Linked DNA regions of Homo sapiens. The protein of the gene in region 2 binds, or shares a complex with, the protein of the main gene of each other region. Each region holds a gene or a part of one and is shown on either strand. Other genes may lie near its edges.

Region 1 (7,781 bases), on a different chromosome or scaffold from region 2:
ATCAGAAGTTCAGTGGACTTCTGATAACGTCTAATTTCACGGAGCGCCACAGTACCAGGCCTTTAAAAAATTAATAAAGAAACTGTTACCAAAAACATAACTAGCACAAAAAGGTAAGTGGGCAGCTTCAAAGAAATGCAGTAATCTTTCAAAAAATAAGCCACCCAACAATTCTTCAGCTTCAGTATCAAATTTCACTGATCAACTTAAGATGTGAACATTCAAATCTAGTAACAATACCTTTAAAGCAAAAAGCATGAAATTAAAATGCATTCTTAGCAAGAAATTCATCAAAGCCCTATTTATTTTCATTTTAAAAAGTTATTCATGTATATAAACCTTGGGAAGGTATTAGCTGTCAGGCTAATGAAGAAGTTGGCTCCCCTCAATTTAGCACCACTCTCCTTCCCTACACCCTCTATTATCTTAAGAGCCCTTAAAGATGACCAACACAACCCAATGAACTTCATTTAAAAATCTGCTTGTGGCATTCAAGTTCTATTTCCCAGAATACCTCTACCCTGACTACAGTTCACCCCTCATCAACTATTAAATTTGAATACACCCGATTGTGCAGTGTTCCTTCCACGTGGAAAAGTTTTTTTTACTAAGTAATTGTCAGCAAGAAATTTACCTCTCATTCTGACTTATTTCTTCCACTGTATGAGCTTTTATTTTAGGTTAATCGTAATATTTGCGGAGGCTAAGTCTAGGCAACTTCTGCCCTCTAATGGCAGATGCCCTTAACAACACAGTGGCTCAGGTAGTTCACAATCAAAAGAGCTAATACAGAAGGAAATAAGCTAATCAAGTAAATGAGGGGGTAGGAACTTTATAAAACACCCAATCTCGATTATATTATTATTTTGCCAAAAACTAGGAAAGATAACCTCAAAAGTGTATTCAAGAAAGCAACACTTAACTATTTTTAAAGAATTACTAATAGTTAACTAAAATGTCAATATATCCCATTAACATTATCAGTGATATACGAGGTCTCCTTAGACCTCCAGGTAAGATTATGGCTTCAAAGTTAAACGTTTTCAATAAAACCTAATACTTAACTTTATATATAAATGATCATACAGTACATTTATTTAAGCAGTAGTTAAGTGTTCAAATGAAAAAAAAAAGTTTCTCTAAAGCAAAAAGTTTTCCTGTTATCCATCTTTTTGTTAAATTATGTGGATACATACAAGAGAGACTTTGTCCCATTTTTTTCCTGTTTTTTAATACCTGTAACGATGAGGTTTCTTCACCCCTCCAGTAGAGGGCGCACTCTTGCGAGCGGCTTTTGTAGCCAGTTGCTTCCTGGGTGCTTTACCACCGGTCGATTTGCGGGCAGTCTGCTTTGTACGAGCCATGGTACAGAGACCTCCTTACTTACCTACCAGCATTGAAAAATCAAAAATCACCATATGCAACTACCAAACATACAACTTTTCCTGCCACGATCACCCCCTCCCCAAATCTGGAAATTATGATCAGTATAAAAAATAATGTTCGTATTGTTATATAATTTGAAAGGGTGAAGATTACGTCTACCCAAAATCTCTTCTTGAAACAAACTAGAGTACTAGAAAATTGTTAGCAGTATCAATCACCTCTCAAAATGCCAATTCTGAGCGACAAACGGCAAAACAAAAATACCTCGAACGGCCTTTGATCCAATTTATTTAATTAAAGCAGTAATTAGAAATGTCTGTAAACATTCCATCCACAAACAAGTCAAAAGAAAAAAGGCACAAACCACTGGAAGGTCGAGTCAAATTACAGCAAAAAAAAGGTCTTACTCCCCCCCACTTTGGCTGCCCCCCCTTCGTCTGACTGTTGATGGATTGCTGTAAATATCTGAAAATATTCTTGGTTTTGCATCTTTACAGTTATGTTGACAAAAAGGCGTCTCGAAAAAACAAGAGAGGAACAACAGCTACCACCAGCGAGCATTCTACAAAGCCCCGTCCTCGCGTCCAGTCCTCACAGGCTTCGCAGTGAAATAAAAAGTGCCCCGCACCCAGGCTTTAATTAACGCACGACATCCGCCGACCGGTCCACCCCAAGCACCACATAAACTTTTGGTTTTGCCTCCTTCGGGTCCCTCGGCACAGGGTCCCCCAACCTGCCCGCCTCGCTCCCAGCGCCTCGAGCAGGAACCAACTCGGCTCCCCGACCAGAACAAAATGGAAACAATCGCAAAACGTATCCGATTCCGTTCCAAAGAGACAAAACACCAAATCGCTCGAAAATACCCCTATCCCCTGCCACGTGCCGCCCTCCAAAATGCAAAAGTTTTTTTTGCATTTCAAATGCATCAAGTTTCCGCCTCTCCAAAAAAGGGAAAAAAACGTCCCTCTTTTAAAAATTCTTGCTTTTTTGAAATGGGGAAGAGAGAAACGGGGGAAAAAATATGGTCGGTGACCAGAGAAGAGAGACAAGATGGTGAAGCTTAGCAACAACTGTGGGGAGGCAGCAAAAAGCGAGTTACCCCAGGGTGCGAAGCGGCGGCGATTTCCACCCCTTTCCCGCTCGAAAACTGGGGGCTGGGGCCCGGGGGCGGTAGTTAAGAGGCCCGCGCGGGTCATGGTGAAGGTTTGGGGTCCGGGGAAGGGGCGGCGGGCGGGATTTCACCGAAGAAAGAGGAGCCAGGGGCGCGGGGAGGAGGAGGGAGAGCAGGCTCGGCGCCGCGGCGGTTGCTGCTGTTGGGCTGAGGCGGCGAGAGACGGGGGAGCCGCCGCCGCCAGAGGGAACAGGGAAACTCGCTCCTCACCTCCATTTCTGGGCCAAAAAGTTTGTGGGCTAAGCCGGAGGGGCTATGGGTCCCCTCCCGGCACCGCCAGGGCCCGGCTCGGGGCTGACGGCAAGCGGGGCTCGGTTCCGGGGAAGCGGGCAGACGGGGAAACTTACCCCCCTTCTCCTTCGGCTGGAGCTCGGCGAGCGAGAGGCGGCGCTGGCGTTGGAGAGCGACGGCGGCGCGGCGGCGGCTGCGAACACAATTGAAAGATGGCTGACACCGAGGCTATCCCCCAACACACGCCGCCCCGCCCCCGCGCCGCGCGCCAGCCAATCACACACAATGGAGGGAAGGCTCGGCCCCGCCCCCATAGCTCCTCTCGCGCCCCGCCCCCGCCCTTCCCCCCGCGCGCCCGTTCGCTGGCGCGCGCTCGCCCCTCCCCCGCGCGCCGCCCGCTCCCTCCTCCAGGCCGCCTCGCGCCGTGTGTGTACAAACACAAAAGACACGCTGAGGGGCCGCCGGCTCCCGCCGAGACTGCCGCCCGCACCCGGCCAGCCCCCGCCCCCGGCCCTGCACTCCCATCCCGCTCCGTGTGCGCACGGCGTCGAACCCCCGAAGCCCGGGTTTGGGGCGCCCGGAGGGAAGTGGGGGGAGGGGAAGGCGGGCGGAGGCGCGGCGGGTGAACGCCCGGCCTGCGGGCGTCTCGGGCCGCGGCGGGGAGGGGAGGGAGGGGCTGCCCCCGCGCGGGCCCCGGCGCGCGCCCCCGAGGAGACCCGGGCGGCAGTGGGGGAGGAGGACGCGGTCGGCCGGGTCGCCGCGCCCCATTGGAAAACGCTCCCCAGCAGGAAGCTGGCAAATAGGAATCCAGCGTCCCGCGCCCGCTGTCGGACCTGGCCGCTGCGGCAGCGGGAGGGGCGGACCGACGGCCTCCTTCCCGCCTGCGCGCTCGGCCAAGTGCGGCCGGGTCCTGCGGGACCGGCCCGAGTCCGCCGTAGACAACTTGATCCGCTAAGACTCCTGGGCCGGCCGCCTGCGTGCAGGGCAGCCCCTCGCCGGTGTTGGCCTCCGGGATCAGGGGACGGGGCTCGCTCTCCTCCCGGGCCCGGGCCCCCGACGCAAGATGGCTGTGTCGCGTCGGCCTCTAAACAATGTGTGGAGCGCGCAGCTCCTGCACCAGGGCCTGGTGGCTTGTCCTGCCCGCCCGTGGGGGCCGTGTGATCTGTTTTCGGTAGGATTGCTTTGGAAAGGAATTGCCGAATATAGATAGTCAAATGTCCGCAGCTTCTGCATAGTTTAGAAGAGGCTGAAAACGGCAGAAAGAAGGCAAACGTGGTTTGGGAATTAGTACATATACCTGTTTTCCAATTCTCAGTAGCATAGGAAACGGACTTTTCATGGCCCAAGTTATCCTCACGACTTGTCAGTTGATTGGCTTTGGAACCTCTGAACCGTCCCTAGATGGTATTGACGCTTCACAACTGTGTGTAAAGGTTTTCAATGGAAGGGTCATGCAAATATCCCGTAGGGTAGTGAAGGAGGAAAATTTCATAAATGAAGGGCAGTAATTATTTGTAATCTGAAGATCTCACAAAGCGGCTTAGTGATAAACATTATCCCGAAACAGATACATGGAAATCAGATACGAGGGAAGAAATGGATTTGTCCAAGGTCACTTAAGTGAGGAAGAGACCTAGGAGAAACAAACAGACAAAAATCCAGGCCTCCCGTTTCATTATTATTTCATGAATGTTAAGTGTCCATGGTTGCTGTGCAGAACACATGCAATCTCTAATCCTATCCTAAAAGCACATATGCAATCAGCTTGGACCGAGCTGCCAGCAAAGAATTTCCTATAATTCAAGCCAAGATGAGTTATTTTGCTTGTTTTTTGTTTTGTTTTCAGGAAACCGAAATATTTATTGTTGGATTTATCCAGGAAGGCTGTTCTGCATTAGTTAAATGCATCATATCTTCAAGAAATGTTAAATGACATGGGTAATGTTTTCTTTGTATGCTGGATTTTTCAATAGCTTCTACTTCTTGGCTTTAAAAAATATTTCTAACCAAGGGTCAGACCATTTTAGGTAGAGTAATTATGATCTTAGATGATTTGAACTAACTCAGCTGTCTGTCCATTTGTGAAATGGGAATAATAATATTTATCTCTATGAAGTTAGGCCACAAATTCTTTCTAGTAGGTTCAAGTATTTAAGCACCTGGAGAGGTGACTGGTTACCCTCCTAGTGGCTTCAGGAAGTTTTCTCACTGAATGAATATTTATTGAGTGCCAACTCTGCTCAGCACAATTCAGGGGTGCTGGGAATGCAGCAGTGAATAACACAAGCAGTGTTCCTGCCCTCATGGGGCTTATGATCTCTGGAAGCACTGCTTTGCACAGGGAAGTAGCACCAGGAGGGGGTAAAGAAAGAGGGACTTTGGAGCCCCAAGATTGGCAAAAACTATAGCTAATGAGAGAGGTGAACTGTAGAGTCTAGATAATGGGGAAGGAGAGGTGCCAGAGCAAGAAGGGATTCTCACAGGGCCCTACGGGTCAGTCCTGAATTGGCTTTACTAGAACTCAGGCCCAGCACAATGGCTCACATCTGTAATCCCAGCGCTTTGGGAGGCCGAGGTGGGTGGATCACTTGAGATCAGGAGTTTGAGACCAACCTGGCCAACCTGGAGAAACCCTGTCTCTACTAAAAATAAAAATTAGCCGTCATGGTGGCACACGTCTGTAATCCTAGCTACTTGGGAGGCTGAAGTGGGAGGATTGCTTGAATTTGGGAGGTGGAGGTTGCAGTGAGCCGAAATTTTGCCACTGCACTTCAGCCTGGGCAACAGTAAGACTCCATCTCAGAAAAAAAAAAAAATAGAATTCTTGGGCTAATAATGGCCTCAACATTTGCAGTTAAAAAAGAAATGGGGAGGATGGGAGCAAAAGGTTTTAAGTTAAAATATTTTCCTTAGAATAGAGTACTTATGGCCATGAATTTAGATTTGTTTATAAGTAGAAAAGTAGAATGGAAAGGATTTTAAAAGCAACGCTATTCATATCTGCTTGGCTCCTGTCAATCAACTGCAAAGATTACTGCCTCATGGAGATGCTTCTGGTCACTGTAATGCTATCTCCATGCACACTTTATCACATTGATTTCACATCACCTTTTTATCACATTGATTTACATCTATCATTTGTTCACTTGCTTATTGTCCAGTTCCTCCCCAAAGAATATAACCTCTGAGGTAATGGTGGTCTTGTCTGTTTTTTCTCCTGTCCCTGATCATTTGCTGTACCTTTTTATTAGGTGATCTCATCCAGTTACATGGAAATTATCATGTAGAAAAATAGAATAAAACAATGAACCCCTTGTACCCATCTTTAGAAATTACTGACTCATGACCAATATTGGGTTCCCTCTATACTCTACTCACTTCTACCTCACCGATTTGAATTATTTTGAAGCAAATCCCAGCCTGCATTATTTCATCTGTAGATAATTTAGTATGTATCATAGGAGTCAAATAGATGATTGATGTGCCCCTTAAATCTCTTATAATCTACAGATTCTTTCTCTGTATTTGTACTTTGTTGAAAAATATGGATTGGCCAGGCGTGGTGGCTCACACTTGTAATCCCAGCACTTTGGGAGGCTGAGGTGGGCTGATCACTTGAGGTCAGGAGTTGGAGACCACCTTGGCCAACATGGCGAAACCCTATCTCTACTAAAAATACAAAAATTAGCCAGGCGTGGTGGCTCACGCCTGTAGTCCCAGCTACTTGGGAGGCTGAGGTAGGAGAATTGCTTGAACCCCAGGAGGCGGAGGTTGCAGTGAGCAGAGACTGCGCCACTGCACTCCAGTCTGGGCGACAGAGCAAGACTCCGTCTCAAACAAAAGAAAAATATGGATCATTTATCCTGAGGCTTTGGATCCACACTGTCTAAAACTGTCCTTTCCCTCAGTCTTGTCCAGTAAATAGCACTACCATTTACTCAACTCAAACCAAAAAGTACAGACAGCCTCCTTGAGCCTCTTTTTCTTTCACCCCGATAGCCAGTCTATTGGTCTTGCTCTGAAATGCTTATCAGAATGACCTACTCCTCTTCTCATCTCTTACCTGCCCTTCAACAGTAACTTTCTGTATGACCTTTCTCTTTCCACTCCTGCACCTCTGTATTTTATTTGCTACCAAGCAGACACAGATTAGATTATAGAATATAAATCAGATTAGGTTGCATTCTTGCTTAATCCATTCAGTGGCCTCCCACTGCTCTTGGTTAAATTCCACATGTGTGGGCCCTGGCATTACCCCTCTTTCCCCTCCGCACTGTGCTGCAGACTAGCCACCCCTGGTCCATCAAGTCCTCCTCTGCCTTAGGATCATTGCATCTGTTCTTTCTGAAGCTTGAATTCTCTTCCACCAGCTTTTGATAGGACTGTCTCACCATCTTCTAAGGCAAACTTTCTAACCTTTCCCATGTCATTTTCTTCTTAGAAAATGATCATATTTGGCCAGGTGCAGTGGCTCACACCTCTAATCCCTGCACTTTGGGAGGCCGAGGTTGGTGAATCACCTGAGGTCAGGAGTTCGAGACCAACCTGGCCAATATAATGAAACCCCGTCTCTACTAAAAATATAAAAAATTAGCCAGGCATGGTCGTGGGCACTTGTAATCCCAGCTACTTGGGAGGCCTGAGGCAGGAGAATCACTTGAACCCGGGAGGTGGAGGTTGCAGTGAGCTGAGATCACACCACTGCACTCCAGCCTGGGCAACAAGAGCGAAACTCCATGTCAAAAAAAAAAAGAAGAAAATGATCATATTTGTAAGTTGCACCGAGGATTAGTGGAGGGTATTTGGAGCCACTCATATGGAACTTGATTTTTAAATTTGGGCTTGGCATGGTAGCTCAAGCCTGTAATCCCAGCACTTTTTTATTTGTTTGTTTGTTTATTTTTTTTTTTTTTGAGACAAGAGTTTTGCTCTTGTTGCCCAGGCTGGAGTGCAGTGGCTCGATCTCGGCTCACTGCAACCTCTACCTCCCGAG
Region 2 (7,931 bases):
CAGCCTGGCCAACACAGTGAAAACCCTTTCTCTACAAAAAATATGAAAGATTAGCTGGGTGTGGCACATGCCTGTGGTCCCAGCTACTAGGGAGGCTGAGGTATGAGGATCACTTTAGCCATGGAAGGCTGCAGTGAGCTGAGACTGAGACTGTACCACTGCACTCCAGTCTGAGCAACAGAGTGAGGCCCTGTCTGAAAAAATAAAAAATAAAAATAAAAAAAATAAAAAAGAAAGAAAAAAAACAAAAAAGTGTAAAAAAAAATTATTTCAGAACCCTAAGGATATATCATCTGGGAATCTGGGACTGAGGCTCTCTGAGGAATGTGGACTTTCTCCTTTTTATGAATGTTTCCGGTCAGGTGGGGTGGCTCACACCTGTAATCCCAGCATTCTGGGAGGCAGGAAGATCACTTGAGCTCAGAAGTTGGAGACCAGCCTGGGCAACACAGTGACATAGTGAAACCTTGTCTCTAATAATAAAAAATGTTTCAGTTACCAATTACCTCTCAAAGAGAAGTGCTGTCTTAATAACAAGTAATACTTTCAAGAGTATCAACAAAACAAAAACAAAAACACAAATACAAACACAAAATGTTACTCCAGGAATAAGATGGTAGGAACATCTCACTATGTTGCCAATACATCTATAAGACTAAAATTGTTCTGGCCGGGCGGGGTGGCTCATGCCTGTAATCCCAGCACTTTGGGAGGCCAAGGCGGGTGGATCACGAGGTCAGGAGATCAAGACCATCCTGGCTAACATGGTGAAACCCCGTCTCTACTAAAAACACAAAAAATTAGCCGGGCATGGCGGCAGGCGCCTGTAGTCCCAGCTACTCGGGAGGCTGAGGCAGGAGAATGGCGTGAACCCAGGTGGCAGAGCTTGCAGTGAGCCGAGATTGAGCCACTGCACTTCAGCCTGGGGGACCGAGCAAGACTCTGTCTCAAAAAAAAAAAAAAAAAAAAAAAAAAAAAAAAACTAAACTAAAATTGTTCTAAAAAAAATTTTTTTTTTGAGATGGAGTCTCACTCTGTCTCCCCGGCTGGAGTGCAATGGCACGATCTCAGCTCATTGCAACCTCTGCCTCCCAGGTTCAAGTGATTCTCCTGCCTCTGCCTCCCGAGTAGCTGGGACAGGCACATGTCACCACACCCCGCTGTTTTGTATTTTTAGTAGAGACGGGGTTTCACCATGTTGGCCAGGCTGGTCTCGAACTCCTGACCTCAAGTGATCCTCCCAAAGTGCTTAGCCTCCCAAAGTGCTGAGCTACCCCGCCTGGTCCTAAAAAAATTTTTTAAAGGTTTACTTAAAAATGATAGCCAACTCTCCTGGAACTCCTTTGAGGATAAGCCCTGGGACCCTAGTTTTGGAAACGCTGCCCCGCTTTGTTCTGTTCAGGACAAAGTTGGCTACCAATGCTTGCCCAGTGAATAGGTTTTGCTTATGATCTGGGGTTCTGTTGAGCTGAGTGTCTGCCTTGAACTCTGAAACCCCCGCTGAAATACCCTCCTTCCCCTCTCATCTGGTCCAAGAAGACCCAGGCTCTGCACCAGCAAAAAGAGACGGCACCCTCGGACAGCAGACACAACTCCTTTAGTCCACGTTTTCAAAGTCGAGGTGCAGGGAAAACCCAGTGTGAACGGACTGCTCCTCGGGCTTTCCTTTAATCGGGCCGTTTCCAAAGTGGCAAAAAATTCACACAGGACCCAAGCTAGCTAGAGGCCTCCTGAGGGGTTCCCCAGGGCATCAGTGCAAGAAGCCCTGAAAGACAAAGCCAAATGACACAGAGTAGCAAAATGTGAACAAGGAATCAAAGAGAAGAGATAAGAAGGAGTAACAAGAAGAAGAATGAACTACAAAGACTGGGAGCGGGGGTGGGGGGTGCTGGCAAACGCATTTGTGATTTTCTTTTCCCCCCAGTGAAATGTCAGTTTTGAAAGCAGCTTCGGAAAATGTAACCAGCTTCTCACATCCCCCAAAAGAAGATGGGAGGAGGCTGTTAGCTCTTACTTCGAAGCCCGGCATCAGGAAGGGGCCCGTCCCGTCCACGTTTCCACGAGGAGCTCACCCTGCGGCTCCCACCGTCCCCGCATGGGCCCTCTCCCCAGATCCTGAAGTTTCCCATTCGGGGGTCCTGAACGCCACACCTCGCACAGCGGTGGAACTCGGTACTCGCGGGCGCCCCAGACCAGCAAACACTTTCCAACCGTCCTGAGCTATCCAGGGGGTCCCCAGAGGGATCCCGGGCCGCCCACGCCCCACCCTCCTCCCTGCAGAGGCGGCCACGCCCGCCCCCGAGACGCCCACCTCTCCCGCACCCCGGACCTCCCTCCCCCACGCTTAAGCCCACCACGCCTGGCGTCCTCCAAATTCCCCTTCCACTCAGAGCCCCCCACTTCCTGCTCACCCACCCCTCCCAAATCTCAGGCCCTTCACTCCCCATTTCGCGCTCCCTTGCTCACTCTGGGCACCTTGCCCCTCCGGCCACCACGCACGCCCTCTTTTCTCTGTCTGTCCCCTGGCACCGGCCCTCCACGGTCGCTCCCTGCAGGCCACCGGCTCAGTCCCGGGGACCCCACGCCAGGCCCCCGCGCTCAGGGCCCCTCCCCGCCGGCCCCCGCCCCGGGCCGGCCTCGTGAGCAGCCCCGGCCCTGCGCCTGCCCCGGGGCCCCGTACTCACGGCTGTAGAGGGCGATGCCCGCCGAGTCCGGGCCGGCGCGCACCTCGAGGCGCAGCGCCTGCTGCTCCGCGTGCCGCTGGATCTCGCCGTTCGCGTCGCCGATGGTGAGGAGGCGGGCGCCGGGGAACACCGACACGGTAGCGCAGGGCCCCGCGCCGCCCGGGACCGCCGACCCCGCGCCGCCCGCGCCCGGCCCCACCGCCGCCGCCGCCGCTGCCATCTTAGATCCGGCTCCAGGCCCCGCCGCCGCCGCCGCTGCGCCCGGGCCCAGGCCGCCGCCGCTGCCGCCGCCGCCGCCGCCGCCGCCGCCGCCGCCGCCGCCGCCGCCGCCGCTGCCGCTACCGCCGCCGCAGCCGCCGTGCAGGCCGAGGCCGAGCCGGGCAGCGCCGCCTGCCGGCCACGCGCCGCCTCGCCGCCGCCGCCGCCACCGTCGCCGCGGCCCGGCCCCGTGGCGCAGCGCCCTCTGCCGGCCGTCCTGGGCGCGGGGAGCTAGCGAGCGAACGAGAGGGCACCCCGTGGGGCGGGACCGGCTACGCCCCGCCCCGCGAGAACGGTCGCCGCTTTGTGAGGTGGCTCCACCGCCCGGGAACTGCGGGGCGGGAGGGTACGTCGGGGGCGGTGCTCGGGCGCGCGGGCACGCCCCTCGGAGGCCTGGGCCCCGCCCCCAGGCCGGCGCCTCATTAACGGCTGCTTTCGAGTGAGGCGGTGCGGGGACGGCGGGGGCGGTGCTCGGCCGCGTGGACACGCCCTGTACCCCGCCCCACACAAGCAGCCGCGCGTCGTGATGCGGCTTCCCTGCCCCGACCTGGACACGCCCCTGAGACTGGGCCCCACCCCCCCGGGCCCGCCCGGCTTTGTGAGGCAGCCCTCAGGGAGGCGTGGCCCAGCCGCGACGAGGCCCCGCCCCCGTGCCTGCCCGCGCCCTCCCACCCGGACTCGCTTTGTCAGCCGCCCCGCTCTGGGGAATGGGCGGGGGAAAGGGCGTGGCCAGCGCCCGGGCCTCGCCCCCAACCCTTCCCCCCACCGCCCCCGCACCGACGATTTCCGATGAGCCCTGGCCTCCAGGAGCAACCTGAGCCCGGTTGAAAGGACCCCTCCCCGACATTCGACCGCTCCTCCTCCCTTCCCCATCATCTCTGCCCACATTGCCTTCTTAATCCTTAATGTTTGACTGTCTCCTTTCGCACAAGATATCCTTTGACCCCCTCCTCTCTCAGCCCCTCCTCCAACGATGCTGAGTCCAGCCTGGCCCGGCGCAGGGCCCCTCTCCCGCCACACAAACCCGTCTTCTCTCTGCATCCCCCTTCATTTTGGGTGGCCCCATCTCTTTTGGGCGACCCAGTGAGCTTGGGCCACTTCCTAGCACTCCAGCTTTAACTCTTCCCTAGACCTCATTTACGCCTCATTCCTTTTTTTTTTTTTTTTTTTTCTTTGAGACGGAGTCTCGCTCTGTCTCCCAGGCTGGAGTGCAATGGCTCGATCTCAGCTCACCGCAACCTCCGCCTCCCGGGTTCAAGTGATTCTCCTGCCTCAGCCTCCCGAGTAGCTGGGACTACAGGCATGCTCTACCACGCCCAGCTAATTTTTTATTTTTAGTAGAGACGAGGTTTCACCATGTTGGTCAGGCTGGTCTTGAACTCCTGACTTCAGGTGATCCGCCCGCCTCGGCATCCCAAAGTGCTGGGCCTACAGGCATGAGCCACCGCGCCCGGCCCCTTTTGTTTTTTGAGACAGGGTCTCACTGTGTTGCCCAGGCTAGAGTGCAGTGGTGCCATCATAGCTTACTGCAGCCTCAACCTCCTGGGCTCAAGCAACCCCCTGCCTCGGCCTCCCAAAGTGCTGGGATTATAGGTGTGAGCCACTGCGAGGGGCCCTCATTCTCCTTCATGTCCCTCACCCGTAGCCCCTGTCATTCCACCTCCTAAACCCTCTAATGCAAGTACCGTTGCAGAGACCCTGGCATGGCACTGCTGCACTCCCCACACCCCCAGGAGGCTCCGCATACACCACCCTGACTGCCCTTGAGAGATGCTTCAAATTTGGTGAATTCAGACACGCTCCACCCCCCAGCCATCCAACCATGGGATCCAGAGGTCCCCAGCTTGAAGGATTCCACTCCATAGAGGCCTGGGAACACCTTGACCCGTGTTATAATTAATAACTTAAGCAAGCCAGCAGGCAGACACACAACACACCCAAGGGCACCCTATGCTCAAAAACCCACTGGGGAAGGGAGGAATTCCACGGGTGTGCAGAGACCTGGGACGTCTTATGGCCCAGCTGGGGGACAAGAAGGGGTCCTGACATCTCCTTCTCTGGTGGTCCTGAGGAGCCGAAGGTCGAGAGGGGAACTTCCTGTTGTCTGTATAGTGCCAGGCCCATGCCTGTGTCCCCTCTCCCACTCCTCTGTGATGAAAATCCCAAGGCCAGGGTTCCCCTTCCTTTCCTCTGTCCAATTCCCTGAGAAAGTGGCTGACAGAGCCCCCCCAGAAGTAGCTGGAGGGACCTCAGGCCCCCGAATGCCTGGAGACAGAGGGGTCCCCCAGTCCTCAGCCTCACTGGCAGGCCCGGAAAGTGCTGAATTCGGGGGTCTCAGGCGAGGAGGACGTGGAAGTGGGCCTCTTCCGGGTCCTGGAGTTGCTGGGGGTGGCAGTGGTGCCTGAGTGATCATCCAAGGTGGCCGGGTCTTCTTCTGGCATCGTTTTCTTTGTCCATGTAAGAAGAAACACAGAAGTGGGTGATTTGGGGTTTCAGGATCTAGGGTTTCTCCATGTTCTGAGCCTGAGACTCTGCCAGCCCAGCAGGTCTCCTCTCATCCCGCCCCCACCCACACCCACCTGTCCTGGTCTTCCCTTCTCCTGCCTTCCTCTCTGCTAAACTGGGGACCAGAGAGCATGGATTCAAACACCAGTTCCTTCACTTTATAGCAGTGTAACCTCAGTTGTGTGGCTTCACCCCTCTATACCTCAGTTTCCCCTTCTGCAAAACGGGCAGAATGCTAGTACCCACCACTTCCTAGGGCTGCTATGAGGCTTAAAAGAGTAAAACTGATAAAGCAAATGGCACATCGTAAGCTCTTCTTTGCTAAGTGAACACAACCATTCATATTATCTCCTCTGTTGGGCCCAGTGGCTCACGCCTGTAATCCCAGCACTTTGGGAGACCGAGGTGGGTGGATCACCTCAGGTCAGGAGTTCGAGACCAGCCTGGCCAACATGGTGAAACCCTCTCAGAAAAATACAAAAATTAGGTGTGGTGGTGCACGCCTGTAATCCCAGCTACTCGGGAGGCTGAGGCAGGAGAATCACCTGAACCCAGGAGGTGAAGGTTGCAGTGAGCTGAGATCCTGCCACTCCTCTCCAGCCTGGGGAACAAAGTGAGACTTGGTCTCAAAAAAATAAATAAATAAAAAATAAATAGTATTATCTCCTCCTCCCCTCCCATTTGCCCATGGGCAAAACATTCCTCAAAAGTCTACCTCCTCCTCTGCCTTGGAGGCTCCTGACCCTGATCCTAGTTAAAGAGAGATGAATTTGCTAGAACTAAAGCCACTCAGTTGACAGCAGGCTGGGGGTTCCACCCACAGTCCTGTCCCTCCCAAGCTGGGTGACCCTAGGCCCATTATCAGCCTCAGTGTCCTTGTTCGTAAAAAGAAAATAATCGATCCCACCTGAAAGGGTGTTACAAAGTTGCATATCAGACACTCAGCAAGGTAATGGGGAAAGCTAGAGACAGGTCAGCTGCTGCCTTACCATTTCAGCCAACGACAAAGCAGTATAAGGCTTCAAAAGGAAACTAGAAGTGAAAGCAGAGACTCCAAAAGAAATTTGCATACCCATGGTCATGGCACGGTTCTGCACAACAGCCAAAAGGTGGAAACAACCCAAGTGTCCATCAACAATTGAATGGATCAACAAAACTTGGTGTATCCATACAACACAATATGATTCAGCCTTAAAAAGGAAGAACAGGCTGGGCACGGTGGCTCACACCTGTAATCCCAGCACTTTGGGAGGTCGAGGCGGGCGGATCACCTGAGGTCAGGAGTTCAAGACCAGCCTGGCCAACATGGTGAAACCCCATCTCTACTAAAACTACAAAAATTAGCCGGGCATGGTGGCAGGCGCCTGTAATCCCAGCTACTTGGGAAGCTGAGGCAGGAGAATCGCTGGAGGCTGGGAGGCAGAGGTGGCAGTGAGCCGAGATCACACCACTGCACTGCAGTCTGGGCGACAGAGTGAGACACTGTCTCAAAAAAAAAAAAAAAAAAAAAAAAAAAAAGAATGTTCTTCCTTTTTTTTTTCTGAGATGGAGTTTCGCTCTTGTTGCCCAGGCTGGAATGCAATGGCGTGATCTCAGCTCACAGCAACTCCGCCTCCTGGGTTCAAGTGATTCTCCTGCCTAAGCCTCCCGAGTAGCTGGTATTACAGGCATGTGCCACCATGCCCGGCTAATTTTTTTTTTTTTTTTTTGTAGTTTTAGTAGAGATGGGGTTTCTCCGTGTTGGTCAGGCTAGTCTCGAATTCCCAACCTCAGGTGATCTGCCCGCCTTGGCCTCCCAAAGTGCTGGCATTATAGGCATGTGCTACCGTGCCTGCCATGAAGGACATTCTGACACAGGCTACGTATGGCATGAATGAACCTTGAGGACATCAAGCTCAGCGAAACAGGCCAGTCACAAAAGGAAAAATATCATGTGATCTCATATCCATGAGATGTCCAGAAGAGGCAAATCCACAGAGACAGGAGAATGGTGGGTGCCAGGGGCTGGGGGAGGGACAACGGGGAGTGGGTGTTGCACGGAGACAAGTTTGGGAGGATGAGAAATTTCTGGGCCGGGCACGGTGGCTCATGCCTGTAACCCCAGCACTTTGGGAGGCCGAGGCGGGCAGATCACTTGAGGTCAGGAGTCTGAGACCAGCCTGGCCAACTTGGTGAAACCTTGTCTCTACTAAAAATATACAAAAATTATACAAAAATTAGGCTGGGTGCAGTGGCTCATGCTTATAATCCCAACACTTTGGGAGGTTGAGGTGGGTGGATCACCTGAGGTCAGGAGTTCAAGACGAGCCAGGCCAACATGGTGAAACCCTGTATCTACTAAAAATACAAACATTAGCTAGGTGTGGTATCAGGCACCTACAGTCCCAGCTACTTGGGAGGCTGAGGTGGGAGAATCGCTTCAACCCCAGAAGTGGAGGCTGCAGATGGCACCACTGCACTCCAGCCTGGACGATAATTGCGAAA

What was found.
Region 1: the proteins of CARM1 (region 2) and H3-3A are in contact, whole or in part, in a crystal structure (PDB 5DWQ), measured with the Homo sapiens proteins. Residues at the interface, in NP_954592.1 of Homo sapiens: Gln148, Tyr149, Phe152, Tyr153, Gln158, Asn161, Met162, Asp165, Glu257, Pro258, Met259, Gly260, Tyr261, Glu266, Val340, Leu412, Thr413, His414, Trp415, Tyr416, Ser447, Lys470, Pro472, Phe474; in NP_001365972.1 of Homo sapiens: Gly14, Lys15, Ala16, Pro17, Arg18, Lys19, Gln20, Leu21.

The regions. Positions count from the first base shown.
Region 1 is NC_000001.11:226,057,935-226,065,715, reverse strand, and holds the start of H3-3A (histone H3.3), read right to left. Parts: upstream 3,001-7,781; 5' UTR 2,905-3,000; intron 1,388-2,904; 5' UTR 1,365-1,387; coding exon 1,237-1,364; intron 61-1,236; coding exon 1-60. UniProt on the Homo sapiens protein: Variant histone H3 which replaces conventional H3 in a wide range of nucleosomes in active genes. Constitutes the predominant form of histone H3 in non-dividing cells and is incorporated into chromatin independently of DNA synthesis.
Region 2 is NC_000019.10:10,866,676-10,874,606, reverse strand, and holds the start of CARM1 (histone-arginine methyltransferase CARM1), read right to left. Parts: upstream 3,055-7,931; 5' UTR 2,905-3,054; coding exon 2,685-2,904; intron 2,179-2,684; exon of another isoform or gene 2,130-2,178; coding exon of another isoform or gene 2,015-2,129; intron 1-2,014. Other genes in the region: C19orf38 (protein HIDE1 precursor), read right to left, coding at 5,240-5,389. UniProt on the Homo sapiens protein: Methylates (mono- and asymmetric dimethylation) the guanidino nitrogens of arginyl residues in several proteins involved in DNA packaging, transcription regulation, pre-mRNA splicing, and mRNA stability.